7 linked regions of the Homo sapiens genome follow. The protein of the gene in region 7 purifies or fractionates together with the protein of the main gene of each other region. This does not show direct contact. Each region holds a gene or a part of one and is shown on either strand. Other genes may lie near its edges.

Region 1 (3,715 bases), on a different chromosome or scaffold from region 7:
GAGAGCGCACAATTCCTGAAGATTTCCAGGATTTTCTTAGTATCAGTTATGGCTTAAAGTTATGTTGGTTTCACATTTCCAGGGTTTGTCAACCCTGTCAGATTTAAAGATAAGCATTATTAGCCAGGTGTGGCCCCATGCTTGTAGTCCCAGCTACATCGGAGGCTGAGGCAGGAAGATCCCTCCAGGCCGTGAGTTTGGGGCAGCAATGAACTGTGATTGCATCACTGTGCTCTAGACCAAGTGACAGAGCAAGACTCAGTCTCTAAACCCCCCTCCCCCACCACTCAAAAAAAAAAAAAAGCATTATTTGCTCTTTTCTGCTTCCCTCTCATCCTTGTTTCCAGAAGGGACTGGGTCATTGCTGAGGGGAGGAGAGGAAGCTCAGATGGCAGCAAGCTGAAGGGAAGCCGACTCTGAGTCAGGCCCAAGTCTGCGGCCTGCCATGCTGCGTGCTGTGGGGAGCTGAGAGCGCATGGGCACCTAAGCACCCAGATTAGGCTGCGGCTACAGAAGATCTGACTCTGTCTGGCCTGGCCTGCGGAGGGACTGTGGCCTCAGAGGAGGATGCTGGCCCAGTGTGGGAGCTGCTGCAGGGTGGCGGGGCCCGTCTGCTCATGGAAGACAGAATCCTTGCCCCTTGACCAGTCAGTGGGGACTAGAATTATGGCAGTTTGTACCACAAGAGATGCGTGGTGGCTATTGTCTGCTTTGTGCCTTTTTCACGAGTCACTGCTGGGCTGAGGTGGCCAATCATCACCCACCACGTGTTCCTGACTGCGCTCCTCCTTGGCTCAGGGCAACCCTGACTCCATCTTTGTTGAGTCAAGTGTGACAAGCTGACAGAGTTCCAAGCATGACACCGCTGTAACCCTCACCACCACCAGGCAAGAATGAGCAAAGATCTCATTCTCTGAGGAAGAACTCCCCGGAAACTCAAAAGGAGGGCCGTCCTATCCCTGCAGGGTATGGGGAGAATTTTCTGGTATTAGCATAGAAAGGGAGCTGGAGGTACCTCTGGAAGAGCGGGGGTCCACGGCATCTCAGACACAGGAGTCTCTGCTTGTTCAGGGTGACAGATGGTGAAACAGAAATGACCTAATGGATCTCTAGACACCCGGTTGCATCTTTTCTCCAGGAATCCAGTTTCCCATTGCAGGGTATTTGACTACACTTGATAAGAGGCCAGGGAAGGACCAGGATTGAGGCTGGGTGTTCTGTTGGCTGAACCCTTGTCTGGAGTCACCCTAAAAGTGATGGCAGGGGAGTTCCTGCAAGGGACTGCCCCAAACCTTTCCAGGATGAGAGCCAGTTGGGATTCCAAAGGAAGAAACACTTAATGCCAGGGTGGTCAGTCCAAAGCATTTGTTAGGGAGCTTACATACAGAGGGGGCTGCAGTGTACCCTCACGAGGGACAGCCAGGAAAGAGGTTGTGCCTAGGCACACCGCACTGAGGGGGTGGGGTGTGGAGTTTCTATGAGGGTGCAAGGAATTTGGCTGGGGTGGGACCAGTTTCCACGTGCTTAGCAACATGTCAGATCTTTCAGTGTTCCAGGCAACAACCTAAACGTGTATCAGTGTCTGGTAACATGCAAGCCCCAGCCAGGGTTTGAGCCTGCAGGGGGAACATGTAGCTGATTAGGTCAGAGTAGTCAAGGCACTTCCTCAGTCAGGACAAAGGAAACACTGGGGGGATGAAATGGGGGACCCAACACTGAGTCAGGCAGGGGACACATGCCCTGTTTAGAGCCCACAGGCCAGACCCTGCCAGGCCAGAGCAGGGGAGAGCCCTGGCCAAGGCACTCCACATGGGGGTCTGTGACCCCACGGGCAAGCCTGCTACCCGGGCACGTTTGTACCTTGGAGGGTCCTCTCAGTCTTGCCGATGCTGTCAACACCCTGAGCCCAGGGAAATCCATCCCATTAAAATAAAGGTCTGGCCCAAGTGTGGTTGCAGATTTTTCTTGGCTATCTTAAAGAGTAAAGTAAGCAAATTACAAATCAAAGAAACTCTGAACCAGTGGTCTTCATCCAAGAGAGCCTCTGGTGGTCAGAAGGAAAGTCTCAAGCATTCAGACTGTGGCAGGAACCCTGTCATGGAATCTGGCAGCTAAACCCGAAAGCAAGAGGCTTGACCACTGCAGAACACTCGGGTAGGTAGGAAACAATGAAAGAGCTTCCAAAATCAAAATCAGAAACCCAATTCCAGGACTTGGTGACTGCAGTACTTCCTGCCTGTCACCATCTAGGGCAGCTCAGATGTGCAGTCCAGCATGAACACACCTTGAGGATGAGGCAGCGCATCCCTGCTGCTGCCGCCGCTGATGGCACCATCAGGGCAGACTAGGTTTGCTGACCAGGCTAGGTGTGGACCAGCACACCTACCTTTCCCTAAATGGGCCCGTGGCATGTGTCCTTTCAAAATGTTCCCTTGGCAGTGTGCTCCTTGCATGGCTTTGCTCCTAGGACACATCCAAAAGGGTCCCCTGCACACTGCGAAGGGCTTCTGGGGCGTGACCTGTCTTTAGTGGTTCTGAGTCTCAGGACTTGGGGCTGATGCAGGGCCTCTAGCTGAAGGGACTTTGATGGAAATGTGCAGACACAAATGTTGCCCAAGGACCACGAGTACAGCAGGTGCTGCAGTTACGGGGCACGCCCATTCCTAATCATTGTGCTTTGTGTCTCCTCAGGGAGAAACAAAGGCAGCGCTGCCCTCGGGGGAGCATTGGCCCTGGCGGAACGCAGCAGCCGCGAAGGATCCAGCCAGAGGATGCCACGCCAGCCCAGCGCTACCAGGCTGCCCAAGGGGGGCGGGCCTGGGAAGAGCCCTACACGGGGCAGCACCTAGGATGGGGCAGAGACTTGTTGCATCTTTGTCCCCAGCAAAGGCTACATGTTACCTCCTTCAATTGATAATAAACCTTTCTGAGATGCAGAGGGTCCAGGTCAGATGTTGTCTACCGTTTTTTTTTTTTGTTTTTTTTTTTATATTAAGGCACACTTAGAATGAAGTTTCTGTGCCGGTCCTGGTTGTGCCACAGTGAACTAACCAGGTCCCTTCACCATGGGTCAACTTCCTGAACCTGATTTGGGTTCTGAGAAAAGGCATCTGGATTGCCAGGTCTTTTATAAATAGACGTCAACAAGCTTCACTTGAAGTGAAATGTGGGAGGTTTTTTTGGTTTTTTTGAAATGGAGTCTTGCTCTGTCACCCAAGCTGGAGTGCAGTGGTGCGATCTCGGCTCACTACAAGCTCCGCCTCCTGGGTTCACGCCATTCTCCTGCCTCAGCCTCCCAAGTAGCTGGGCCTACAGGTGCCCATCACCACGCCCGGCTAATTTTGTTGTATTTTTAGTAGAGACGGGGTTTCACTGTGTTAGCTAGGTTGGTCTCGATCTCCCACCTCATGGGAGGTTTTCTACCAAGGCAGTTGACAGTGCTGAGGGACAGGGTGGCTGTGTGTGCGCACAGAGGGCGAACGCTGCCTTCCAGGTTACCGTGGAGCACTGGGGTCAGCATGGGTGTGTTGTGACCTTCTGTGGGTCACGAATGCTGTGTGGAACTCGGTTAATATTCTTTCCCCCTCTAAAATGTCCTGACCTTACATATTTGACCCACAGCTTTAGAGACTTCATGGACAAGCCCCATCCACAGACCTCCAACACTTCATGCTCCCTTTTAGCCAGCATGACCCATCAATAAAGAAGCCCGAAA
Region 2 (3,102 bases), on a different chromosome or scaffold from region 7:
GTGGAGAAGTGATACATACCAAAGGTGGGTGGTTCGATTCCACACCATCTTGTGCTCCTGAAGTGTCAGCCGCTGAATTACCCCCTTGCAGTTTTCCACAAACTGGCTGTTAAGCGTTTCTTTAACAGACCGCACAGCTCCTAAGTGGACACAAATTCTATTATTTCTGAAGAAGTTTTCTGCCCTCTCCTTTCAGATAATTTAAAATGTGTTTTCTGGTCTGGCACAGTAGGTCACACCTATAATCCCAACACTTTGGGAAGCCAAGTCAGAAGGATCACTTGGGGCCACGAGTTTGAGACCAGCCTGGTTAACACAGTGAGATTCCATCTTTACAAAAAATTAAAAAGTTAGCAGGGTGTGGTGGCATGTGCCTGTAGTCCCAGATACTTGGGAGGCTGAGGCAGGAGAATCACTTGAGCTCAGGAGTTTGAGGCTGCAGTGAGCTATGATCACACCACCATACTACAGCTACCTGGGTGACAGAGCCAAGACTCTATTTGAGACGGAGTCTCACTCTGTTACCCAGGCTGGAGTACAGTGGTGCAATCTTGGCTCACTGCAACCTCCGCCTCCCGGGTTCAAGCAATTCTCCTGCCTCAGCCCCCCGAGTAGCTGGGATTACGGGTATGTGCCACCACATCCAGCTAATTTTTGTATTTTTAGTAGAGACGGGGTTTCATCATGTCGACCAGGCTGGTCTCAAACTCCTGAGCTCAAGTGATCAGCCCATCTCAGCCTCCCAAAGTGCTGGGATTACAGGCATGAGCTACCACACCTGGCCTCAAAAAAAAATTTTTTTTTTAATTTAAAAAATGTTAAAAATTAAGTGTTTTCAGTTGACTTTTGCTAATTCATCAAAACAATGACATTCTGATCACCATAAGTCACATTTTAGAAGCACTCTCCTAAGCACTTTGCATGGATCACATAATTTGTCTTATAACAACCCCATAAAGGTAAGTATTATTTTCGAGATCAGGCAACAGTGGTTCAGGGAGGTTTGGTAATCTTAGCGATCACAAAGCAATAACCCATGTCTTTCTGACCCCAAAGTATGTTCTGGACCATGGACCCAACACCACAAAAGGCTCTTCATATTAGCCAAGATGATCTTTATCAATCTTTTGGGAAAAAGACGTTGTTTTCCATTGACCAATAAGCAAACATACCTTCTATAACAGCATAAGGCACGCATTTTCCTGGAGCTTCTGAAAGAATACTCTTTAAATCTTCACCCAAATGAACTTTTTTAGCTCCCTAAATAAAAAAAAAAAATTAAATTAATTGGCCATTGAACACTGACATGCTCAATCAAACTTACAGGCAAAAAAAAGAAAAAGATTCTATTTTTTTCGTGTCAAGAGAATATGGAAATTGGACAGGAAGGTGACTACTGAGAATCAGATTTCAAAGCTGTGTACATCAACAGGAATGGAGCCATGCCTCTGCCTCTTCCATCACTGCAGAATGGGGGTGCCACATACATTCTTGTTCCAGTTAACCAAAACCTATACTCCTTTTCATGTTAAGACTTTTTAGTGAAAATATAAAAGGTACTAGTCAATTTACATACCACAGACTGAACATCATTCAATCTCTTCCTGACAACACAGAGCTATGATCCAAAGGGTTCAGGTATAAAGTACCTAACCTATCACCTAGCACATGGCAGTGGTTTGAGAACTGGTAGGTGTTATTATTAATATTACCACATCTTTACGAACCAATGCTCTGCATTGTATGTTATTAAAAAAACAAAGCAGGGGGAGTTGCCTTTGCTTCAACAGGAAGACTGTTAACTGGTGCCAAATGCCATTCTACATTTTTTTTTTTTTTTGAGATGGGGTCTCACTGTTATACCCAGACTGGAGTGCAGTAGTGCAATCATGGCTCACTGCAGCCTCAACCTCCCAGGCTCAAGTGATCCTCCCACCTCAGGCCCCCAAGTTGCTGAGGCCATAGGCATGCACCACCACACCTGTCTAATTTTTTTATTTTGCAGAGACAGGGTCTCCCAATGTTGCCCAGGCTGGTGTTGAGCTCCTGAGCTCAAGCGATCCTCCTGCCTCGGCCTCCCAAAGTGCTGGGATTACGGGTGTGAGCCACCGCACCCAGTCTGTTCTACTTTTTGCCTTTTTCATGCTCATAATTAAGTGAGCACGGTTCTTTCTGCTGCTGTCTTCCTCTAACAATCCCTAGTTCTCCTCTGCCTTCCAACTCAGAGCGTCCAACCCACTGCACTTGGGAAACCAATCCTGTTACTGCTGTTTCAAAAATAAGAGAAAAGGAATAAAATCAACAATCATTTCCTGAGCATCTTTGTGCCAGGCACTGTGCTGGGTGTCAGAGATTCAGGACGAATAAAGGACCATCTCTGCTTTCAGGGTATTCCCAAAAACAACTCTTAAGGATGCCAGATTCAGTAACCTCTAAAGAGGTGATGTGATACAAGATGTATATGAAGGTCACTCTGAGTTTAAGCTACTGCTACACAGTAAGTGACAGGAGCAAGGTCAATCAAAATTTCTTAGCCACTTACACTGTGAAGATACCAAAATGACAGCAATAACAACTAACAATTTACTCATTATCTGTCTCCCTCCACTAGAATGTTAAACTCTAGGAGGGCTTGGACACTGTTTGTCCTGTTCACTGCTATCCCCCTAGTGCGGAGAACTGTGCCTGACACACAGCAAGCATTTAATACATTATTTGATTAATAAATTAATGAATAAGTAAGCATTTAAATATACTATGTACCAGGCAATATGCTAGGCACTTTAAATGCATAAACCACTTAATGCCCACACCATCCCTTTACGGTAGACATTATTATCACCAATTACAGACAAGGAAACAGGCTCAGAGAGGTGAAGTGATTTGCCCAAAGTGAGACAGCTAGTAAAGTATCCACCACAGGATGGCCAATTCGAATTTTAAAGGGGGAAGAGGGAGAATATGATCAGAAAGATCTGGAGTTTAATCTAGCGCCAATGCATCCACTGTGACTTGGGACAACTTCATTTATCTGAGTCTCAGGTTCCAAAACCATAAAGGACAGGGAAAATGCAATTTCACAGGATTTTTATGTGGGTTAAA
Region 3 (4,232 bases), on a different chromosome or scaffold from region 7:
TTATAAAATTATAAACAAATGTAAAAATAAGACAATTTGGGAAAAAAGGATAAAGAAAAAATGTTAAAGTGAAGCATTTACTGGGCAATTCTCAAAATATTTTTCACTGGTCATAGAAAAGCCAAATTTTTTCCATTATTCATCAAGAATAAAATGATTTACTTATATTTGTGATTAATACAAGTGACATTTAAGAATCAAAATAAAGGCGATATTTGGATTTCATTTAAAGTTCAATTTTAAATGTTCTAATTCTTTTAGTTTTTCAAAGTAAAATGCGTTTAAGTTTTATCAAAAAATATTCACACAAAATAAGACTGACTGAGCATTTGCTTACTAAAATTTAAACCAAAAAACACCTGCTAATGCATATACACATATGCTTGTATGCATATGTGTAATTATATGTAACTTACTACATATCTAAAACAAGTATCAAGTTTAATAAAATGAATGATCTGAAATGATTGGCTGAATCAATAGAAATGTTTGCTAAAGAAACTATCTTTTTTGAGGCAAATCATTAATAGCAATGAATGAGCACTTAGACTGAAACACAATAAAACCCAACAGAAAAATACATTCAAGAGGTAACAAAAAGCTATTATTTTGTGAATATTCTCAAGTGAAATCACTAAAATGTGAAGACTATCACAAGATTTACTGTAATAAATTAGATAAACCAAAAGAAAAAAAATTCATAAAAAGCTGAAGACTCTTCCCCATTTTAAGATAATCATTGCGTAATTTTATCCACTTTATAGAAATATACAGAATTTCAGTTATTTGTGGTTGCAAATCTTATTTCAAATTGGCTAGAGGATTAGTTAATTGTTAACACAGCTGACCATATCCAACCTCCACAGCAAATCAGTATGTCTATAACACATTTCATTTTGAAAAGTTACTTGAATACAAATGAAATGATTAAAGCTGACCTGAAGGCCGGGCATGGTGGCTCATGCCTGTAATCTCAGCACTTTGGGAGGCCAAGGTGGGCAGATCACCTGAGGTCGGGAGTTCAAGACAAGCCTGACCAACATGGAGAAACCCCATCTCTACTAAAAATACAAAAATTAGCCGGGCATGGTGGCACATGCCTGTAATCCCAGCTACTCAGGAGGCTGAGGCAGGAGAATCGCTTGAACCCAGGAGGCGGAGGTTGTGGTGAGCCGAGATCGTGCCATTGTACTCCGGCCCAGGCCACAGGAGCAAAACTCTGTCTCAAAAAAAAAAAAAAAAAAAAAGCTGACTTGATCTATTTAGTTATGCTAAACACAAGTACAGCTATCAACTCTGAAACGACTGAAATGCCTTCATTATTATCCACATGGAAAAACTAAAAATATATATAACACTTAAATAATGCTTATTGCTTATTCTCTGTTAGTTAAAAGTAAAACATAAAAATAATTTTTAAAATTGCTTTTCAGTACCTTTCATATGGTTCAGGGTGTTCAATCTGAATTAACTGCTCTTGTCCATCAGGAAAAGTTAACTTACACCAACCTAAGTTAAGACCTTGATTTACCTGAAGAAGTAGAAAGATAAGTTTTATCATTTTAGAACTGAAAAAAAGAACATAAACAACCTATTCTAACTTCATTAACTTAAAGAAATAAGTAGAGGAATCATTAAAGATGCAACAGTTTAAATGTTGTTTACATGAGATATGGGTGTTATTTAACCACCACTCATATAGGTAATTATCAAAGCAAATGAAAATACTAATCCCTTTCTCTATAATCAGTTATCTTTAGAAAAGTGACTATTTGTCAAATCATTCTGATTTTTGCTAGGAAATCCAAAGAGATCAGTAAAGCTTCTTGACAGATTTTATACTTCAAAAAATGAACTGAAATAGTGTGGTACTTTGTTTTCTTTGTTCTGTTTTCCACAGATTACCAATAAAAAATAGATCTAAGTCTGAAGTATACCCACCTGTCTCTTCTCAATAGGAGAGCTGAAATTCCAATTTAGGGTTAGAGTAATGCCATCTAAAAAGATAGCATGTACTTTGTCATCAGAGTAGGCAAGAAATCTTCCCACACTGGGTATGAGTGACTCTTTCAAAACCAAAGGCAGTATATTGCTATCATTTATCCCAGGTACCTAAAACCAAGTAAATAAAAATAGCAGGAAATAGAGTTATCTAAGAACAAGATTTAAATGAATATTAATGACTCTAGGGCAATTTTGGATACTTATTCAGAAGTCAAATATTATAAAATCCTTATATTTTAATTTTTCCAGAAGTGGATACCCAAAACAGTCTTTTTTTCAAGCAGATTCAGTTATAATATATTTGTAAAGTCACTGTTCTGCTCTGAACTTTACATCCATTATAGACAAAAATTAGGAGCTTACAGGTTTGTAATTAAATGAATATAGATACAGAAATCAAAGTCTGAGAATCACTTCCTCCAAATCAGCATTAAGGAATTTATTTTTACGGTTATGAAAATATAGAACACTATAATATCATGGTTTATAATGACTAATGATTTTACATACTTCAAATCCAATCAGTTCCCCTATCCTTTCCTCTTCATGAAAAATAAGAACCATATACAATAAAACTATAACATAAAAGCCTGAACTTTCAGTGTTTGTCTACTAGGTAGGTATTTTTCTGAATAAACCAACATTAATGTTACAAGAATTTCTCACATGACTTAGAGGAAAACTGTTTGAACTCAGAAGTATGGATATAAACAATAAAACAATTTAAAAATATCTTGCTTTTAAAATAATTTTAACATACCATTTTCCAGCAGCATATACGATAGTTATGGCTTAAAGAAAGTCTCATCTTCACACAATGTTGAAGAATTCTGTGAACACAAAAAATACTACTTAAACATTTGCAAATGACATTTTCCAATTCTAGCAACCCATTTTCACTGCCATACAACATTTTAGATGATCAGTAAATCATTTTCACTGAAATGTGTTGGGAACTCTTTTTTTCTCCAGAAATCCTTAAGCCCCTAGAAGGGAAATACTGTTGCTTCCCTTTGTGCTAATCTTACCTACTTAAGGCTATTCCTTTAATTTTTAGCAATGAAATGATTCCATGGACAGAATTTTCAGGAACTCCTTTTTTAAGAGGTGATAGATTCACACTGCCTGGAAAGTTTCACATAGGCTAAAAATGGTAGGGATGTGAATCAACTATCCCTAGGAAATCAAATTACAGAATATGCTTCTTCAAATCTATTTTGGAAATTGCTTGTACATAAATTTATAAAAAGAAACAACAGTCCACTTGCATTCTTCTGGGTATCATAGATTGAGAGAATTTTAAAAACATATGAACCAAAGAACCAATCTATGCTTTATCATTAGTATATTTTCAGAAATCTATTACTCTGAAGATAATAAAGAAGTATAAAAATTTTAAATGTAACATCAAATCTCCAACTTGATTTCAAGGAACAATAATGATGCCACACTTATGCAAAGAAAGGGCACTTACTTCCTCTCAGCACTTGCTCACCATATATGGATATTTCTCCATATTTAAATTACAAAGCCAGAAGTAATCTTAATAAATGACACAAAAATTACCTTATTTTATAAATTATGACACCAAAAAAGTTGACAAATTTTACCGAAGGCATATATTTCCATTGTACCTGCCAATTCTTAATCTTATCCTTAATCACAAGAAAATGTGCCAAGATGTTTAGACACATAACATTTGATTCAATTGAATGGGAAGAACTTACCTTGTTGCCTGTTTAATTAGAGAACCGACAGTGAATGGACTTCCCGGTCTATCTGGAGGAAGGTTATTTACTGAGTAAGTTTTCTCTTCTCTCTGAAAATTAGTTAAAATGAAAAATTTCATTAATAATAAATTTTGGCCTTTATTACTTAGCTGCTTTTCCTTGAAATATGTTTTTACAATAGTGACAAGACGAGTAGTTATTTTAACAAAATAAAGCCCACAAAATCATGGTATTTTATGATGCTTTTTCATTTTCCCATTTTTTTTTTCTCATTAAACTTTTTTAACAGGTCTCAAAATTCTGTGACAAATTTTTGGTCAAGTTGTTTCCATTAAAAAGTACTGATTTTAAAAACTAATAACTTAAAACTACCACATGCAAAAAAGAAAACCAAAGTGGTCCACAAAACATTCTCCTTTCCTTCTGAAGGTTTTACGATGCATTGTTATCATTAACCAGTCTTTCACTACTAAACTTAAATGGCCAATTGAAACAAAC
Region 4 (4,232 bases), on a different chromosome or scaffold from region 7:
CACTTAAAGCTGTAATTATGCTCATTTACATATAGAAAAAAAAATCTGAGGGCACACAGCACAAATTGTCTTCAGTGGCTATATCCGAGCAGGAGACTAGAAGGAACTTTATCTCAGCTATATAACATTTGAAATGTGTTACTCTAAATTTAAAAGATGTTAATAAACTGTCGTTTGCATCGTATTTTTAAAAAAGAAATAAAATATTGCAGATATATTTGGTGAAATCTCTCTTTACTTTCATCTTAAAGATAGTCACTAGCCTGCAACTATTGCTTTTATACTCAGAAGGAAAAAGAATAGTTTCCTCTAAAAATCTAGAATTGCAAAATATAACAAATAAAAAGCTTCTTATAATTTAAACCGAAATGGTATGATTTTAGTCTTTTTAGGTTACAAACATTTCATATATGTGTATTTCTCTAGACGAAGCTAATGGTGCAAATTAAACTCGTTAGTAACACTTTTCCAATCTGCTTCTAGACACATCCGCAACATTCACTACGTCAATGATAGTCCACTTACCATGCAAAATGTGATATCATCCATATCAGATGATTTTGGAGACTGTAAAATAGTCAGAAAAGCTTGGAAACAGACATTTTGGTAGGGCTCCTCCAAATACGGCTGTCCTGGCACACTAAACGCATACAGAGAAAACAACTCAAACTCAGTCTCCTTTAAAATGAGGCTTGCAAAAGACTAATTAAAAATAGCAGTAATATAGACTATTAGAGTTGGAATATACCCTTGAGTGCAACTATGCTATGGAAAATTATTATTTTGGTTAATTAGTTACTGCTGGGGGACAGGCACAGGGCTAGAATGAATATAGAGGAAGGGTGGTTTCCATACAGAAAGGTTACAGAAGTTTGTGGTAGAAGAACTATGGAGAAAGAAAAATCTTGTTTTAGTTCTGCTGTTCAGTCCTAGGAGGGAAATAATCCAGACAGGTCCTGTCAAGCTAGAATCACACATCTGTACCTGCCTTCCTACTCGCTGGACAGCACTGTGCTATGCAGAGACGAGTTCACATTTGTGCTGCTCATTGTCTACTGCCTACTGTGAGAATCGAGGGTGAGCAGCTGGGGCTGTTTCCATCTTCTTCAAAGAAAAGAAATTGCCCTTTACAGATACATCTCACCAGCACTTAAAATTTGCATGAATATATCCTTCTAAAAACTTAATATGCTTAGAATTTATATCAATAGAAAACAAAATTTTGACATACTGCACATTATGTCACTATTACCACATTTTAGGAATATGGTCCTAGTCTATTTTTTCCTTCTTTACAAGCAATACTAAAATTAACAAACAACATAAGATGATTTTATTAGTAAAGTACATGGGAAATGCAAAGTTAGTTATTTGTCTAAGTTGGCTCTGGCTTCAGGCACAGGGAACTACCTACAAAGGGCCCAATAGAGGCACTATCTTATTACCATTGAGAAACTTGACTGGAGCCACATACCTGAGACATAAGTTTGCCATACAATGTACTGCAGCTCTCCTGACTTCAGGATCAGACTGAGCCAAGTCACTCAACTTCATTAAGAGTCCGGTGTTGCCTAGCAGCTCTGGGAGGTACTAAGAAAAATAAGAGTCAATGTAGGTCAAAGAAAAGCTTCTAGGAAAATATTATGTTTTAGACAGATTTCTTCTTTCTTTTTTTAACTAAATGGCAGTTAAGCACCAAAAGACTAGCTGTTAGATAAATGTCTCCGATGGATATGCAAAGATATGCCAAAAAGCATCAATAATGATCATTACTCCCAGCCTAGGTAGCTGCTGATGCTCTTTAGTGTGGCCGTATGGCTGATGGGTAATGATAATATTAAGAATAATGTTTACTATTTACCGAGGGCCATGAACTTGACACGTATTGTCTCACTTCATCCTCAGAGTAACTATTTTATACATGAGGAAACAAGGCCCAGAGTGGTTGAATAAGAATTGCTAGAGATTAGTGGCAAGATAGAAACCTGAACACAGTGTTGGCACCAGAGTCTGTGCTCCTGGCCTTTCAAAGGAAGGATAAAGCACTTTAAACTACCTTTTGACATTTGGAGCCATTGCAGTACACCAGAGCTGCCAGGGCTTGAAGAATTTCCCTGTGTGTCCAGGAACTACACTGATGAATAGCCGAAATAGTATATGCCAACAGGAAATCCAAGTGCTGTTCATCAACAATTACCTAACAGGACAGGAAAAGATATATTCTGATCTAACTTTTAAAAAATATTATGCTTTTATGGACATGTATGCTCACCTGAATCAAGCTGTATAAAAGAGAGAGTGTGTGTCTGTCGTTTATGTGTCAAAAGGATCACCTCTAAAGGGCCTGAAAGTTTGATCAACGTAGGGGCCTTCTCCCCACCCCAAGGTCTTGCTCACTTCTTCCTCTTTAGTAAAGTAGAACTTGATGAAGTCCTTGTAACTTTTCCTTGAACTAACCAGACATTGGCAGCTGTGAATACACAGATATGAGTATTTCAACGCACTGAAATTTAATTAAACTGCCTTATACATAATAAACACTCAATGAATACACAGTGAACCAATATAACTGCTAAATACCTACTGCATCTCTAACATGACATGAGGAATACACCATGAAGAGAGGGCATATCCCTGCTGTCAAGGAGCTGATAATCTTGTTGGGACAGACCAGGCTAATCCAAGTGTCAATTTATGGACAATTGAGACAAACTGTCACCAAGTGCTGGAAAGCTGGTAAAGGGTTATAGGTGCCACAGGTGATCAGGAACATCTCCAATTGCCAGTGTTACAAAGATGATACACCTGAGAATAGTAAACATACAGAAGCTACCTCATGTTAGTTTCAAAGATTCTAAACTGAAAACAGCCTTACTCCATGCAGCAGACACTGTTGGTTACCTACTAGCATCCATTTCTTCCTTCCCTGCTGGCAGAGTACTAATTTAATTGGATGTCCACCTCTCCCATGTGAGACCTAAGGGTAAACGCTAATTAGTTTAAGAGAGTGGGGCAACCTGGGGCAACCTTAACCCCCAAGGAACATTTGGCAATGCCTGTATACATTTTTGACTGTCACAATTGGAGAGGTGCTACTGGCGTCTAGTGGGTAGAGGCCAAGGATGCTGCTAAACATTCCACAATGTGCAAGACAGCCCCTAAAACAATGATCTGAGCCAAAATATCAATAGTGCTGAGGTTGAGAAACCCTGATGTAGGCTAACTGTGGCTGCACATTGTAAGCATCAAGGGAGCTTAAGTCCTCCTCCAAGTGATTCTAATGTGTAGTGAAGGTTGAAACTACTAGCTGGAGCCATTCACAATAAGACCATCCTCCTGCTTAAAGACTGGTTTAGAGAGGTATTTATATGACCTAAGTCTCTCCAGCAAGATATTGGGGAGTCTACTAGAGAGTTCATGGGACACGTTTCCTTACTGTTAAGTACAAGAGACACAACATAAAATAAAGTTAATTAGCTTCTGCTGAACAGTAATCATTTCTTTGGCATGGGATGTCCAGAATTGGCACAGCCATCTTATGACTGTGAGACATGCTAGCTGAGGATAACCCACATGCTGAGGACGGTGAAGGGAAAGATGAGCCTCTTATTATTAAGGGGCTACAGATGCGTCCCTTGGGACTTGGGACATGGAGTGATTCCTTTTTATTTTTTTAAAAATTGTTTAGTGACTCTGGGATGGCTTTTCTGCTTATTGCAGCCAAAAGCATCCTAATTCACATAATGCTAGTTGATATGTTTTGTGCTCTTAAATATATTCACATACTCATGTGGTAACAGTCTTAAATAAATAACTGGGGTCTTTTTATCCTGCTGTCCCCTTGGCCCCAAGCTACTTCTTATATTTTAGAAGCATCAAAAGTAGACCATAAAAATGGTAGCTTCAGGAAAGGGGAAAAATATTGGTGGGAAAGAGGCAGGGGATTATTTCAATTTATTCTTAGATATATTTTGTTCAAATATATCTTCCATAAGAAATTATAAATTAGCCGGACGTGGTGGCGGGTGCCTGTAGTCCCAGCTACTTGGGAGGCTGAGGCAGAAGAATGGTGTAAACTCGGGAGGCGGAGCTTGCTGTGAGCTGAGATCGCGCCACACTCCAGCCTGGGCAACAGTGTGAAACTCTGTCTCAAAAAAAAAAAAAAAAAAGAAATTATAAGGTTGGGGGGCCTGAATGATATTGGTTTACTGAACCAAACAGAAAGGCATACT
Region 5 (4,232 bases), on a different chromosome or scaffold from region 7:
GAGGGCGCTGCAGTGGGTCTCAGACAGTGTGGGGTGCGGGGTGGCGGGCTCCTTGCTCTACTGGCTGCCAGCCCTTGGCGAGCAGGGATCACATCTGATTCCCCTCTCTGAGAACCGGCAGGTGGGGAGTCGGTCCTCGTGAAATGAGGAGGATTAATTAACGGAAGCTGGGGGTGCGGGACACCAGGCGGCAAAGCCATAGAAGCGCGTGTGCCATCTCAGCCCACCCGTGCGCCACGGGCTGAACGGAAACCAAAGGCCACCACCCAAGATCTGAAAGGATCTGAAAGGACGCACTCCTGTCTCAAAATGCCAGGCCGCGAAGACTGAACGCGGAGCTGAGAGCGGCTGTGCCTCCCTCGTGTTTCACACTCCATAGAGCCCACCGGGAGGCCTAATGCGCTGGTGGCGATGGGAGCATCTCCCGAGCCCGCTTCAAAGGAGACACGGAAATCCAAGGGTCCTACAGCCAGGGCTACAGGGACCCCTGCTTAACCGAGGGACCCAATGCACAGGAGGCGGGTCTGGGCCAGGCACAGGGGCTCATGCCTGTCATCCCAGCACTTTGGGAGGTTGAGGCAGGAGGATCGCTTGAGCCCAGGAGTTTGAGACCAGCCTGGGCCACATAATAAGACCCGGTCTCCACAAAATTTTTAAAAACTACCTTACTATCCAAAGGCAGGAATGAGCTTGAAAAATAAAAACAGAAGGCAACAGGTCTGGGTCTTAGCTCAGAAACCTGGGTGGCTTTTAAGACTCAATGTGGCTCCCTCCTAAATGGACAGAGTGTCAGTTTCTGAGAAAGACGCTGGGCGCTGTGGCTGCACCCACTCTAGAAACGGCTCAACCTCATGCCCACGTGAGTTTCAAAAGCTCCTTCCCGAGACCGAGGAGCATTCTCCCACGAAGCACTGCCAATCCACCGGCCTCCCCAGACGCCACGTGCCCCTCCAGCCCAGAGCCCCATATTCCGGCGTGGAGGGCAAGGCCAGGGACCCTGGGCCTACCTTGGGCGCCAGCTCTGAGCTGTGCTGCAGTGCGGTATAGAGGACCTGCATGTTGTTCGGGTTCCGGGCGCTGGAGAGCTCATTGAAGATCACCAACTTGATGGTGGTGCCCAGGTTGTCCTTGTGCGCGCTCAGCAGCTCCCTGGGTGAGGTGAGGGTACAGACCCTGTCCCCGCTACGCCTGTGCCCCCACTCCGCCTGTGCCCCCACTCCGCCCGCACCCCCGCTCCGCCCACACCCCCACCCACACCCCCACTCCACCCGCACCCCCGCTCTGCCCCGGCTCGCCACGCACCTGATGCACAGCATGAAGTGGTTGAGGAGGACCTTGGGCTTGAGGCGGATCTTGATCAGGTGTGAGATGACGTCCATGTCTTCGGAACCGTGCGTGTTGCAGTTCATGCAGACGGACATCAGCAGGTCCTGGGCCGGCCGGGTCAGCTGCGGGGCCGAGGAGGGAGCAGTGGGCTCACGGCCACCCCGGCAGGAAGACCACGCTGTGGGGCCACACAGAGCCTGCCCCCACCCCCTGCCCCGCCCACCCCCCCGGGGCGCCCCCGCACCTTGGGGTTCTGCAGCCACATCTCCAGCTTCTGCACCGCCAGCAGCCGCACCTCCTTATAGCCGCAGGTGGAGGTGAGGAGCCGCAGGAGGTTCCTGGAGACGTTGTCGATGGGCTGGCGCCGGTTCAGCTGGTCCCGCAGCATGTCCAGGACATACTCCTCCACGCTCTCCGCGAGCTCTTCGTACCTAGGCCAGAGGAGGGAGCGAGGAGGGAGGAAGGTGGCCCCGAGGCGCCCGCCCCCGCCGCCCCCAACTGGGACCGGGCAGGCACGCAGCTACCTGGGCATGAGCTGGCCCTCCTGCTCGGGGCTCAGCTTCTCCTCCGCGATCAGCAACTCCGTCTGGCTGTCCTCCTCCTCCGTGAGGGAGGGGTGTGGGCTGCTCCCTGCAAACCAAGGAGAGGGCTCCATGCAGCGCCTCCCACCCGCCCATCCTCCCACCCCTCCCCTGCCCTGGGGCTTGGACACCCGCCCTCTCTGGCTGGCCGTGTGTCTCACCTGCACCCAGGTCGCCCGCAACGCGGCCCGCCTCCCCCTGCAGCAGCACGCTCCTGGGGGGCATTCTGGTGTTGAAGGCCGTCTGGATGTTGTCCACAAACGTCTTACAGTGAGGGCTGTCCACCCAGATCCGCTCCCCCAGGGAGTCCTCGATGTACACCTGTGTGGCAGCCACACCCTCAGCCCCGAGCCCAGCCGGGCAGCAGCCAGGTTGGGGAACACCCGCCTGCTGCCCGGGGACTGGGTGCCCAGGCGGCCCTCTCCAGCTTCTGGGTGCAGCAGGGACCGTGCCATCACCACCAGGGCTGTCAGACACAGCCCTCTGGAGAGAACACACTTCTGCTTTTCTCTCGCCCCTGCCCCACCCCGTGGCGCTCTGCCATCTTCACCGTCCCGGGAGAGGACGCTCACCTTGACAAAGATCTCGGGCCAGTTCTCGTCCTCCTCGTAGGCGGCCATGAGGAGGTTACAGGCCAGCACAGACACCAGGCTGTTCCCCTTGGCCTTGAAGTTGATGGAGGCGTCCCGCCGCAGGAGGCTACACAGAGCCTGCCAGGGAGGGCGCATGTCACGTGGGAGCTTCGCTGGCCCCAGAGGCAAAGCTGGGGTGGGCCGGGAGGGACACTTAAGGGGGAGGTGAGGAGGGGAGCCAAGGGCCCCAGCGCTGCTCGCCTCCTGCCAGGGGCCCGGCTCAAACCTCAATGACGCCCTCAGTGGCGAAGATGTTGGGCTTGATCTTGGCCAGGTACATGAGGCTCAGGTAGAGGGTGCTGTCAGGCTTGGCGCGGGTGACCTTCAGCTGCTTCACGGCCCCGCACAGCACGCCCTCGATCCTGTCATCGTTGCCCTCCAGCTCGGCCGCCTCGATCTCATCCAGCAGCACCGTGGGCAGCACTGGCCGGGGCAGGCGGTACGGTCAGAACGGGGCCAGGGCAGGGTCACCCCAAAGCCTCGGGACACCGGGAAGACCACGAGGAACCCAGAGCTCTCAGGGTCGGCCCTGCCAGGGACCAGCGATCCACCCTCAGCAAAGTTCCCACAGCGGACAAGCACCCCACCAGATGGTCCCCTTAATACAACAGGCTGCCCCACAGGCCTCAGCACTAGCCCACCAGCCACTCCAGTCCTGGCTCCGCTGTGTCCCACACGACTACCCCAAAGGCTACAGACATTTCCCAGCAAGCCAGGCCACCTGCAGCTTTACTTTCCACTGAATCGTGGCTCCGTCTGGCGGCTTCTTTCTCACTGTGGACCGCAGCACAGTGGCCCTCTCTCCGCACCCACCCCAGCTCCAGTCTCCAGCATGCCCTTCTTCCCACTTTTCCTCCCTCTTTCCATGGGTGCTCGGCTCACAACCTTCCTCCAGACGAGTGCCTGACCCTCCCACATCCTCTGAGGAGCACCAGGGCCAGCACACACCTTTCCTATCGTCGTGTTTGCCACTGTTGGATCGGAGGTTTTCTCATTTTCATTCTGATTCTTCTCTGTCCCAACAGTTTTTTAGGACTGTGTTTTTAAATATCCACAAACGGCCAGGTGCAGTGGCTAGCACCTGTAATCCCACCACTTTGGGAGGCTGAGGCAGGTGGATCACCTGAGGTCAGGAAATCGAGACCAGCCTGGCCAATACAGTGAAACCCTGTCTCTACTAGAAATACACAAATTAGCCAGGCGTGGTGGTGCATGCCTGTAATCCCAGCTGCTTGGGAGGCTAAGGCAGGAGAATCATGTGAACCCGGGAGGCGGAGGCTGAAGTGAGCCGAGATCGTGCCACTGCATTCCAGCCTGGGGAACACAGCGAGACTCTGTCTCAAAAAAAAATAAATAAATAAATAAATAATAAATAATAAGTAAATACATATCCACACACATGTGGACAGAGGCATTGTGATCTACCTTAACTGCGCCCGGGACAGAGACTTGGAATAAATTTCCTGATGCCGAGACAAGCTGGGGGACAAGTGGGCTGCCAGCATGGAGGGACAGCCTGGGACATTTACCACAAATGGCTGGATGCAGCCATCTCTCTGTTTTGCTGAGAATAATACTATAAAGTGATCTACCACTCAGAATACGCTTTTCATAACCACGTCTCCTCTCATCTTCAAAACCTCCTTTCTACAGGAGGTAGTGCTAAAGATAAATAAAGCACCGAGCCGCCGGC
Region 6 (4,232 bases), on a different chromosome or scaffold from region 7:
AAGAGCCCATTTATTAGAGTGCTGATACCTGACTGTAAATTATTTTGGCAAGTACCACTGTTACACGGCTAGATTGTTCTCGGACTCTTCAATAGGTGGATAACAGCTTTAGGATTTGGAGGAGTGAACCTGAGCTTACCTCAGAGTGCTGGGCTCGGAAGTCCAGGGCTTCCAGGAAAAAGGCGGTTAGCTGAGACTGATGGGAGGTGAGCTCTTCCTTCTTCATCACCCCAATATGCTCTTGCAAGATGCTCATAAACGGACCCATGTGATTCTACCAATAACACAGGAAAGAGATGTGCCATTTTCAAATGATTCCTAGAGTTCAGCGGTGTGTATTTTTAAAAACTAAATCTTCTTCTTTAAGTCAAAGTTTACACATTGCAGTACCACCTCTCCCTTCTCCAAAGTCTTAATACCCAATAAGATCTAACCTTCCAGTTCTTCTCAATCTGCTTGTAAGTTTTTTTGATGGCGGGCAACAGGACTCGGGGTGCAAGTGTGGTAGCCAGTGTCTTTTTAAGAGATGTGAGACGGATATTAGCCTGTGACGCAGAACCCATTTCACTAGTGATTTTCTCCAGATGAATCACCTACAGGAATATAAAAAAAGTGATCAGGGCCACTGCAGATCTTCGCTGACAAACACACACTTACAGAGAGGCTTCATGATGAGGTACTAGTGTTTGGAAAATGCTTAGCACTTTTTAACTACACACAGAATTCCTTTTAAAGTCAGCCCTAAACGTCAGTGGATAAAACTGGGCAGACACCTCTTGCCCAACTTGCGATCAGGGACGAAGGCCGATGGTAGACGCAGACGCACACACAGCACCCAGACAGATGATTTTCTTAGAGGACAGGAATGCAAGGGACCACGGCAAGAGTCAAGTTGCTAAAAAACTGAGAAAGCTCCTCAGAGCACAGGCCCCTTTCTCTGAGAAGGCTACTTTTAAACCCTGGCTGTGGTGTAAGTGAAGCGGTTTAATCATTTGCCCCATGGTAATGAAGGCTCCTAACCTTGTAAATGGCAAATGATCAACACAATGGAACAGCCAGGTCTCAACATTCTTGAGCATCTTCAATCATAAATACCACTGGCCCCTAGCGTGTTGACAGGAAACCGCTGACGTGCAATACAAAAATTCTGCTTTGCAAGATGCCTTAGGATTATACCTCTCACAGTAGAAACAGGGCCCATCAATTTCCACAAGTAATAAAAGGCGGCTCTACCAGCCCAACTCCAAAGATCTCACAGAAGAAAAAAAAGCCAGAATACATTCCGCACAATTAAAGAAGAGAAGCATCTCGCTAAAAAGTGACCCCCATATCAATTTCAAGATTAAGTGGCAAGGATGATGGAAGAGAAAAAGTACACATTTAATAAAAGCAAGCACATCTCTTCAGAAATAAGACTCCTTTCTGTCAAACGGAAACTAACCCTTAAAGAAAAAACAAAATCACTACATTTGTGATCTTTTACCTTCCCCAGCCACCCTGCGTAGCATGTCGTGGCTATCGTGGCTCACCTGGGAGAGAATGCCTTCCAGATAGGGGCTGATGAAGTGCGGGAGAGTCTCCACAACCTTCTGCAGAGCAGCCAAGGCACTGAGCAGGTAGACCTCGCTGGAGACCAGCTCGCTGGTGTTCTTCATTGTTGTCAGCAACGATGGCATCAGGCTAGAAACAAAGTAAGAGCTTTAGAAGAACTTGAAGCAGAAACAGAGGCTAGGGAATGGAGTAGAGGGCATTATGAAAAAAACCAGCAAACTGTGCCTATTACATCGCTATCTGCTTCATAGCCTAAAAAGCAGTGTCTATACATTTTATGTGGCTAAGCACAAGAAATCTCCCAGTGCTAACAGTACGGACACAACAGTAATTTAAAAAATAACAATGTCTTTCATTAACTGAACACTTACTATGTGTCAGGCACTATGCAAAACTCCTTGCAAGCACTGCCCTACAGAAATCCTATGAGGTAGATACTGTCTCTGTTTTATAGACAGCAAAGCTCTAACAGGTTAAGGAACATACTGGCTGTACAGTAAGGAACTACCACAGCCAGGAGCTTCTAACTTCCAAATTTGGCAGCAGAAGGCAGCTTTGGCCTTGCCTAACTGGGTGGGCCCCTCTGCCAAGAACCTTCACCCACTGCTTTTTGACTATACTAGACAAAAGGAAGGAAGAATGGAGGACGATTAACACTGCAAAGTAGTGCATCTGAAGATAAACGGGAAGGCTGCATCTTTCTGTTTGAAGATTAATTATTTTTATTATTATTTCTTTAAGAGACAGGGTCTCACTCTGTTGCCCAGGCTACAGTGCAGTGGTGCAGTCATAGCTCACTGCAGCCTCAAACTCCTGGGCTCAAACGATCTCCCTGCCTTGGCCTCCCAAAGTGGTGGGATCACAGCCGTGAGCCACCACACCCTGCAAGATCAATTCTTTAACAAATTCCAATTTTATGCAACGTCTACTCAGAGGAAAAAAAAAAAAAGTCACCAAAGTGTTATTTTTCAATGTGTGCCAGGCGGTAACAGCTCCTGTTCCAAGTCTCCGGCCGCATACCTGGGAAGCTGGGGGATGGCCAGCGCCTCCAGGGTGGAGGTCACCTCTGCTATGCACAGCAGCGCGCTTCCCAGGACATTCTTCTCCTCCTTTCTCTCTGGAGCAATCAGTTTCACAGCAGTGTTCAGCACTGGGACAAAAGGATCTGGATTTTCTGCACCAAAATTCTTGCATAAAAGCTTTAAGGTATACAACGCTGTCTGTCTGTTGATTGCTTGTTCTTCTTCCCCTTCCTTTTTCTTACGCTGCACAATGGCCAAAAGGTCTGGAACCAGTTTTAGGAAACGGGTAACCTGAAGGGGACAGCCAGAATCCCCAAATCATTAAAGCTGCAAAAAATGTTTGTCCATTTTCCCATTGTCACAGCTTGAGATTGTCTAAATGGAAATCAGACTCGGGGGTCCTGAGTCACACAGTCATGCTAAGCGATGTGCATGTTCTAGCCAGTGTTTCACTTATACAAAGCACCCACTGATCTGGAGTAAAAGGGACTTAGAACTATGCTAAGGCTAAGGCCACGTAAGCTCTGTAGTAAGCAAGAATTCCACTAGGCTGAAATTCCATTCTAAGAGCTCTTACAACACACATATATTCCCGTTAGAATTAACGTCACATTTTAAAACATGTCATGGTATTATATTCAGAAAATAATATACTTCAATTTGAAATTGTACCACTAGAGAAATTGAAGGGAGTTAAATGCAGCTCTTTGATAAAGCAAAGTACAGTAAATGGGTGTGTCCTGGGTCTTCACTCACTATTGTCTTCTTCCAGGATATATTTTGCTGCAGCTTGTTATTCAAAAGGTCCAGCGCTTTGCGGCGAACAGATGGCAGGGGATTGCCCACCAGCCCTCTGATCACAGGAATGAATGTCTCTGTGGGCAGCAAGGCATTGACCTAAAGAGAAATTTTATATTTAACATGAAAAGAAAAACAAATTAAAAAAAAAACCAACTTCAATTAAGACAGACTGCTGTCCACTGCACACCTCCAGGCACCAGGCACTTCCACACACATTTTCTTATTTAATTCTTAAAATAACCTTTCAGGTAGGCATTACCAACCACACATTATCGAACAAAACAAAAGCCTGATGTCAGGAGGAAGTGCCAAAGGCATGCAGCTAAATGACTGAGCTAGATTTGAATCAGCAATCCTAACTTCGAGGCCAGTGATATGTATGTAATATACTTCATACTTTTATTTTATTCCACTTGAATAAAGTAGAACAGTATATATTATATGACTTAATTATTAAAATATACGAGGTACATGTTCTCATAACTGGTAAGGAAACAATTTTTTCCAGACAAATCTATTTCTAGTCATCAAGAGATTGTTTTCTAAGAAAAATCTGAGCTTCATTATATTCATAAAAGGAATTGCTAAGTTTATTCTTAAAAACTTTACATAATTTCACAATAATTTAAAAAACAGCAACAAAACAGTAATTCCAGGGAGAAATGAACACCTACCTTATCTAACAGGTCGTAAGCTTTACTAAGGAGCGCGCGCCAGAACTTCACGGTGAGTTTGTCTGCGTTCCTTTCCATGGACTGTGCAACTGCACTGATATAGCCGAGAACGGTCTCCAGCAACCTGAAACACAGAGGCTCGCTCAGCAAACGGCAGCTGAAGGCACTCAGAGAACTTGTTCAT
Region 7 (4,881 bases):
AGGGGATGGACTCACCACACCTGAGTCAAGAAAGCGCCACCCCTTCCAGAGTCACGGGCCATAGTCCCAGGGGAAAACCCTATCAAACTAAAGCTAAGAAGAATTTAACTCTCTTTCATCTATTCTATTACTCTTTCTTCTTTCCTCGCTCTATTGCTGACCATCTAGTTATTAACATAACCAAGTCAATTTCACTTCAAACTATTGCATTTGATGCTTGCCTTGTTATACCCTGTGGGGACTTGCCAAGTCAAAGACAGCTCTCTACTTCAGAAAAGTACCTCTGTCCCTCCTGACTCTCCTCAGACTGGGTATTAGTGAATTGGGACCATTTAATCCTGGGAGATTTTGATAAAGACCCCAGTGTCAACCAGGAGTCTTGCCCCGCGATGTAGAGCTTTTATACCATAGTTGGTCCAGGGTTCTGTGGACCACTAAAGAGCAAGGATGGACTGCCCCAACCGGTTTTTGTAATTTCCTAAAACCATACATTCATCTTACTAGAGGGACAGCCCCCGCCTCCCACTAACTGTCAGCTAAACCAGTGCAATCCTATACAGGTTATTACCTTGAATCCTCAAAGTTCTTTCCCTTTTCTAAGCCAGTTCCCTTCTTTAAGCCAGTGTTATGGTATGGGGGCTGAGGTTTCAGGGACAGACCCTATTGGATTCTTTGAAATGCATTTCTTTGAACCCCCACCGCCTGCACCTTCCTCTAAGCCTTCTTCCAAAACCTCTCACATGGAACAATTGCTCCTCCTCCATCTAACAACAAGACCAAGATAGCTATCGTAGAAGCGAAAGACTTAAAACAAACTTTGGCAATTAAGACAGGATACCAAGATGCAAATGTCTGGTTGGAATGGATCAAATATTCCGTCCGCACATTAAACAAAAGCAATTGTTATGCTTGTGCACCCAGCAGGCCAGGGGCCCAGAATGTCCCCTTTCCACTAGGGTGGTCCTCCAGTTGACTGGTTGTGGGCTGCATGGTAGCTCTTTTCCAGGATTCTACAGCCTGGAGTAACAAGTCGTGCCATGCTCTTTCTCTCTGCTATATTCTGAAGTCTGGCACCCTGTGGGTCGGCCCCCGAGGGTCATCCAGCTTCCATCTCCCAATACTAAGTTCACTTCATGTCTCTCACGACAGGGAGGAAACTTAGCATTCCTTGGAGACCTGAACGGATGCAGTGAGCTTAAGAATTTTCAAGAGCTTATCAATCAGTCAGCCCTTGTTCATCCCCGAGGGGATGTGTGGTGGTATTGTGGTGGACCTTTACTGGACGCTCTGATGAATATCTGAAGTGGCACTTGTGTTTTAGTCCAATTGGCTATCCCTTTCACCCTGGCATTTCATCAACCAGAGGAAGGAAAAATAAGACATCGTAAAGTGAGAGAAGCCCCTTATGGGTCTTTTGACTCTCACATCTATTTAAATGCAATTGGAGTCTAGCAGGGAATACCAGATCAATTTAAAGCCTAAAATCAAATAGCTGCAGGATTTGAGTCAATATTTTGTTGAGAGACAATTAATAAAAATATAGATTGAATAAACTACATATGCTACAACCAACAGCGATTTATTAACTACACTAGAGATGGTGTTAAAGGAATAGCTGAGCAATTAGGGGCTACTAGCCGGATGGCTTGGGAAAATAGGATAGGCTTAGACATGATAATAGCAGAAAGAGGAGGAGTTTGCCTCATGATTAAAACTCAATGTTGTACCTTCATCCCAAACAACACTGCCCCTGATGGAAGTATAACAAAGGCATTGCAAGGTCTGACTGCCCTGTCCAATGAGTTAGCCAACAACTCAGGGTTAAATGAGCCCTTTACAGGATGGCTAGAAAAGTGGTTCAGTAAATGGAAAAGAATTATAGCCTCAATTCTCACTTCCCTGGCAGCCGCAATGGGTGTATTTATTCTTGTTGGGTGCTGTGTCACACCATGCGTCCGTGGGTTGGTGCAAAGAGGCTCATAAAAACAGCACTTACTAAAACCTCCCTTAACTATTCTCCACCTTATCCAGAGAAGCTTCTTCTTTTGGAAAATCAAGCAGAACATCTAAGCCAAGACATGTTAAAGAAGTTTAAAGAGAAAGAGCTGTAAGGAAATGCAAGAGGAGAAGTTGTTAGGTATGAGTTCTAAATTTCTCTTCAAAGAATCAGTATGTCAATATGTTCAATTCTTTGCCTTCTACTTTTAAACTTAACTTCCTTGTAAAGCAACCTTTTTCAATTACCTGCTCCGCCCTGACTCATTCTGATTACCTACTCCCCCCTGACTCATTCCGATTACCGGCTCCACCCTGACTCATTCCAATTACCTGCTCAGTCTCCACCCTGACTCATTCCGATTTCCTGCTCCGCGGTAACCATTTTTCCCACCAAACCACTCACCCCATCACTCTCTTTAAATTAGCCAATCAGAATTAGTTTAGCCTGTGTGGTCTAACCCTAGCCAATAGGGGAATGACACAGCAGCAGGGGCCACGTGCATCAGGGATAAGAACCCCTTCCCCTCCCTTGTCCAAGTGTGCACTCACCATTGCTCCATCTGTAAGGGCGCACCCTTCTATAGAAGTACCTTGCCTTGCTGAGAATTAAAAAGAAAATTTTATATTTGAGTGCTATTTCTTTTGCGGCACAGAAACTTCACTTATAACAGCACCATGCAAAAGACACTAGCTACTAGCACTAGGACATGGGATCAATGACATCCAAGTCAGGGCTCCTCCTACCTCTGCCTTTGACTCTGCTCCTAAGGACAAATGGGTTGGCATCTCCTTCTGCTGAGGCTCATCTTCTTTTGAGGGTTCCTTCGTCTTTTGGGGCTGCTTCTCCTCCTGCAATCAGCATTAGGGGAAAGGCAAGAGTGAGGCTGCGGTCCCTCCCTCTCCATTCAATATGGCACACATCCCCAGCTTCCAGGGCTTCTTAGAGTCTTCAGTGTCAGGGGGTCCCTTCACCCTGAGAGATCTATGGGGACATCCCTAACAAGCCTGGTGTGTCTGGCTTTCTCTTACCATTGGTCACATATGGATTGATTGTAGATGGTTCAAATCCCCTCACATCTGTGTTCATCCAGCCATAGCATAGGCAGGAAGGGTGGAGGAAGAAAGGCCTGTGATGTCATAAGGGCACCTGTGACTCAGGCACCAGATGGCTCCTAACAAGTGAGCCCCCTCCAAGGGAAAGACAAAAGCGCTGCCCATTCTTTTCTGCCAGAAATGGCCAAAGCCCTGACTTCAAAGGCAAGATGCCAGAAATACTGGCCCATTGCTGTAAGGTTTATAAAAAGCCAGTCATTTCTAATAACATTTAATTGAAAAAACTTGGCCAGGCGCAGTGGCTCAGGCCTGTAATCCCAGCACTTTGGGAGGCCGAGGCAGGCAGATCAACTGAGGTCAGGAGTTCGAGACCAGCCTGGCCAACATGGCAAAACCTTGTCCCTACTAAAATTACAAAAATTAGCTGGGTGTGGTGGCTGTCACCTGTAATCCCAGCTACTCAGGAGGCTGAGACAGGAGAATCGCTTGCACCCAGGAGGTGGAGTTTGCAGTGAGCCAGGATCATGCCACTGCACTCCAGGCTGGGCAAGAGAGCAAGACTCCATCTCAAAAAAAAAAAAAAAAGAAAAGAAAAAACTTATATAGCCAACTTAAATAATCAATAGGGGATTAATTTAATGATGCATAGTTCATTCATACTATAAAATACTACATAACTATTAAAAATAAGAATTTGATCTATATTACTAATGAGGAAATATATAAAGATGTATTTATAAGTAAAAAACTAAAGTTCCTTTTGATCCCACTATGCAAACAAAACTAGGAACATAATTATACACATAAAATTGAATAATTTATGCCAGAAGTTATTACATGATACACATTATATGTTGTAAATGAATATAAAGAAGAAAAAAGGTATATATACCAAACTATTACCAATGATTACCTTTGGAGAGGAGAGTTAAATTGCTGACTCATGCCTAACACAGTCCCCAAGGAACCCCATGAGGGCCTGAGGACCAGCCTGGACTCCATCTGAGGCTCAAATGGGTCCAAGTGCTCTCCTGTCTTCCTCTGTCCCTGGGGTCTCAAGGCCACAATCAGATGGATGAAGGTGGCCACTGCACAAGCATGGCCCCTTTCTGCCTGATCTCGGCCTCTGAAGACCCAGCTGGACAGGGTAAGGCCATGAGAGGCACAGCCCCTGGGGTCACTGAGAAGTGCACTTGAAATGTATAGGGTGAGTATGGGAGAGGCCAATGTGGATCTGTAGGGGGAATGTAGGGAAGAGGAGGAGGCCATTTGAGGCTGGGATGTGAAGTTAATGGGATGAGGGGGTGGAGAATATGGGAATACATTGAAAGATGTGGGAAGTTGTGGGTGTGATATAGTTTGGCTCTGTGTCCCCACCCAAATCTCATCTTGAATTTTAACTCCCGCAATTCCCATGTGTTGTGGAAGGAACCTGGTGGGAGGTGACTGAATTATGGGGGCAGGTCTTTCCTGTGCTGTTCTCATGATAGTGAATGAATCTCAAGAGATTTGATGGTTTTAAAAATGGGAGTTTGGGCTGGGTGCAGTGGCTCATGCCTGTAATCCTAGAACTTTGGGAGGCTGAGGCGGGAGGATCATGAGGTCAGGAGATCAAGACCATCCTGGCTAACACGGTGAAACCCCGTCTCTACTAAAAATACAAAAAATTAGCCAAGTGTGGTGGTTGACACCTGTAGTCCCAGTTACTGGGGAGGCTGAGGCAGCAGAATGGCATGAACCTGGGAGGCAGAGCTTGCAGTGAGCTGAGATCATGCCACTGCACTCCAGCCTGGGCGACAGAGCAAGACTCCATCTCAAAAAAAAAAAAAA

Evidence for each region.
Region 1: the proteins of IQCF1 (region 7) and MZT2B purify together in Homo sapiens (affinity purification with mass spectrometry; 2 studies listed by BioGRID and IntAct, with this or other methods). This does not show direct contact.
Region 2: the proteins of IQCF1 (region 7) and MUL1 purify together in Homo sapiens (affinity purification with mass spectrometry; 2 studies listed by BioGRID and IntAct, with this or other methods). This does not show direct contact.
Region 3: the proteins of IQCF1 (region 7) and C5orf34 purify together in Homo sapiens (affinity purification with mass spectrometry; one large-scale study listed by BioGRID and IntAct). This does not show direct contact.
Region 4: the proteins of IQCF1 (region 7) and HEATR6 purify together in Homo sapiens (affinity purification with mass spectrometry; one large-scale study listed by BioGRID and IntAct). This does not show direct contact.
Region 5: the proteins of IQCF1 (region 7) and INTS1 purify together in Homo sapiens (affinity purification with mass spectrometry; 2 studies listed by BioGRID and IntAct, with this or other methods). This does not show direct contact.
Region 6: the proteins of IQCF1 (region 7) and HEATR1 purify together in Homo sapiens (affinity purification with mass spectrometry, with the first as the bait; one large-scale study listed by BioGRID). This does not show direct contact.

The regions. Positions count from the first base shown.
Region 1 is NC_000002.12:130,187,778-130,191,492, forward strand, and holds the end of MZT2B (mitotic-spindle organizing protein 2B), read left to right. Parts: intron 1-729; coding exon of another isoform or gene 730-809; exon of another isoform or gene 810-1,947; intron 1,948-2,691; coding exon 2,692-2,849; coding exon of another isoform or gene 2,850-2,914; 3' UTR 2,915-2,950; downstream 2,951-3,715. UniProt on the Homo sapiens protein: Required for the recruitment and the assembly of the gamma-tubulin ring complex (gTuRC) at the centrosome.
Region 2 is NC_000001.11:20,502,050-20,505,151, forward strand, and holds part of MUL1 (mitochondrial ubiquitin ligase activator of NFKB 1), read right to left. Parts: intron 1,261-3,102; coding exon 1,173-1,260; intron 141-1,172; coding exon 20-140; intron 1-19. UniProt on the Homo sapiens protein: Exhibits weak E3 ubiquitin-protein ligase activity. E3 ubiquitin ligases accept ubiquitin from an E2 ubiquitin-conjugating enzyme in the form of a thioester and then directly transfer the ubiquitin to targeted substrates.
Region 3 is NC_000005.10:43,490,779-43,495,010, forward strand, and holds part of C5orf34 (uncharacterized protein C5orf34), read right to left. Parts: exon of another isoform or gene 4,100-4,232; intron 3,824-4,099; coding exon 3,732-3,823; intron 2,835-3,731; coding exon 2,765-2,834; intron 2,113-2,764; coding exon 1,942-2,112; intron 1,532-1,941; coding exon 1,437-1,531; intron 1-1,436.
Region 4 is NC_000017.11:60,071,690-60,075,921, forward strand, and holds part of HEATR6 (HEAT repeat-containing protein 6), read right to left. Parts: intron 2,198-4,232; coding exon 2,057-2,197; intron 1,591-2,056; coding exon 1,475-1,590; intron 641-1,474; coding exon 526-640; intron 1-525. UniProt on the Homo sapiens protein: Amplification-dependent oncogene.
Region 5 is NC_000007.14:1,497,405-1,501,636, forward strand, and holds part of INTS1 (integrator complex subunit 1), read right to left. Parts: intron 2,963-4,232; coding exon 2,766-2,962; intron 2,618-2,765; coding exon 2,480-2,617; intron 2,229-2,479; coding exon 2,069-2,228; intron 1,957-2,068; coding exon 1,851-1,956; intron 1,758-1,850; coding exon 1,571-1,757; intron 1,449-1,570; coding exon 1,303-1,448; intron 1,150-1,302; coding exon 1,008-1,149; intron 1-1,007. UniProt on the Homo sapiens protein: Component of the integrator complex, a multiprotein complex that terminates RNA polymerase II (Pol II) transcription in the promoter-proximal region of genes.
Region 6 is NC_000001.11:236,555,666-236,559,897, forward strand, and holds part of HEATR1 (HEAT repeat-containing protein 1), read right to left. Parts: intron 4,173-4,232; coding exon 4,049-4,172; intron 3,471-4,048; coding exon 3,330-3,470; intron 2,865-3,329; coding exon 2,572-2,864; intron 1,681-2,571; coding exon 1,530-1,680; intron 594-1,529; coding exon 435-593; intron 275-434; coding exon 140-274; intron 1-139. UniProt on the Homo sapiens protein: Ribosome biogenesis factor; required for recruitment of Myc to nucleoli. Involved in nucleolar processing of pre-18S ribosomal RNA. Required for optimal pre-ribosomal RNA transcription by RNA polymerase I.
Region 7 is NC_000003.12:51,900,243-51,905,123, forward strand, and holds the start of IQCF1 (IQ domain-containing protein F1), read right to left. Parts: upstream 3,112-4,881; 5' UTR 3,031-3,111; coding exon 3,028-3,030; intron 2,848-3,027; coding exon 2,743-2,847; intron 2,583-2,742; exon of another isoform or gene 2,551-2,582; coding exon of another isoform or gene 2,548-2,550; intron 1-2,547. UniProt on the Homo sapiens protein: Involved in sperm capacitation and acrosome reaction.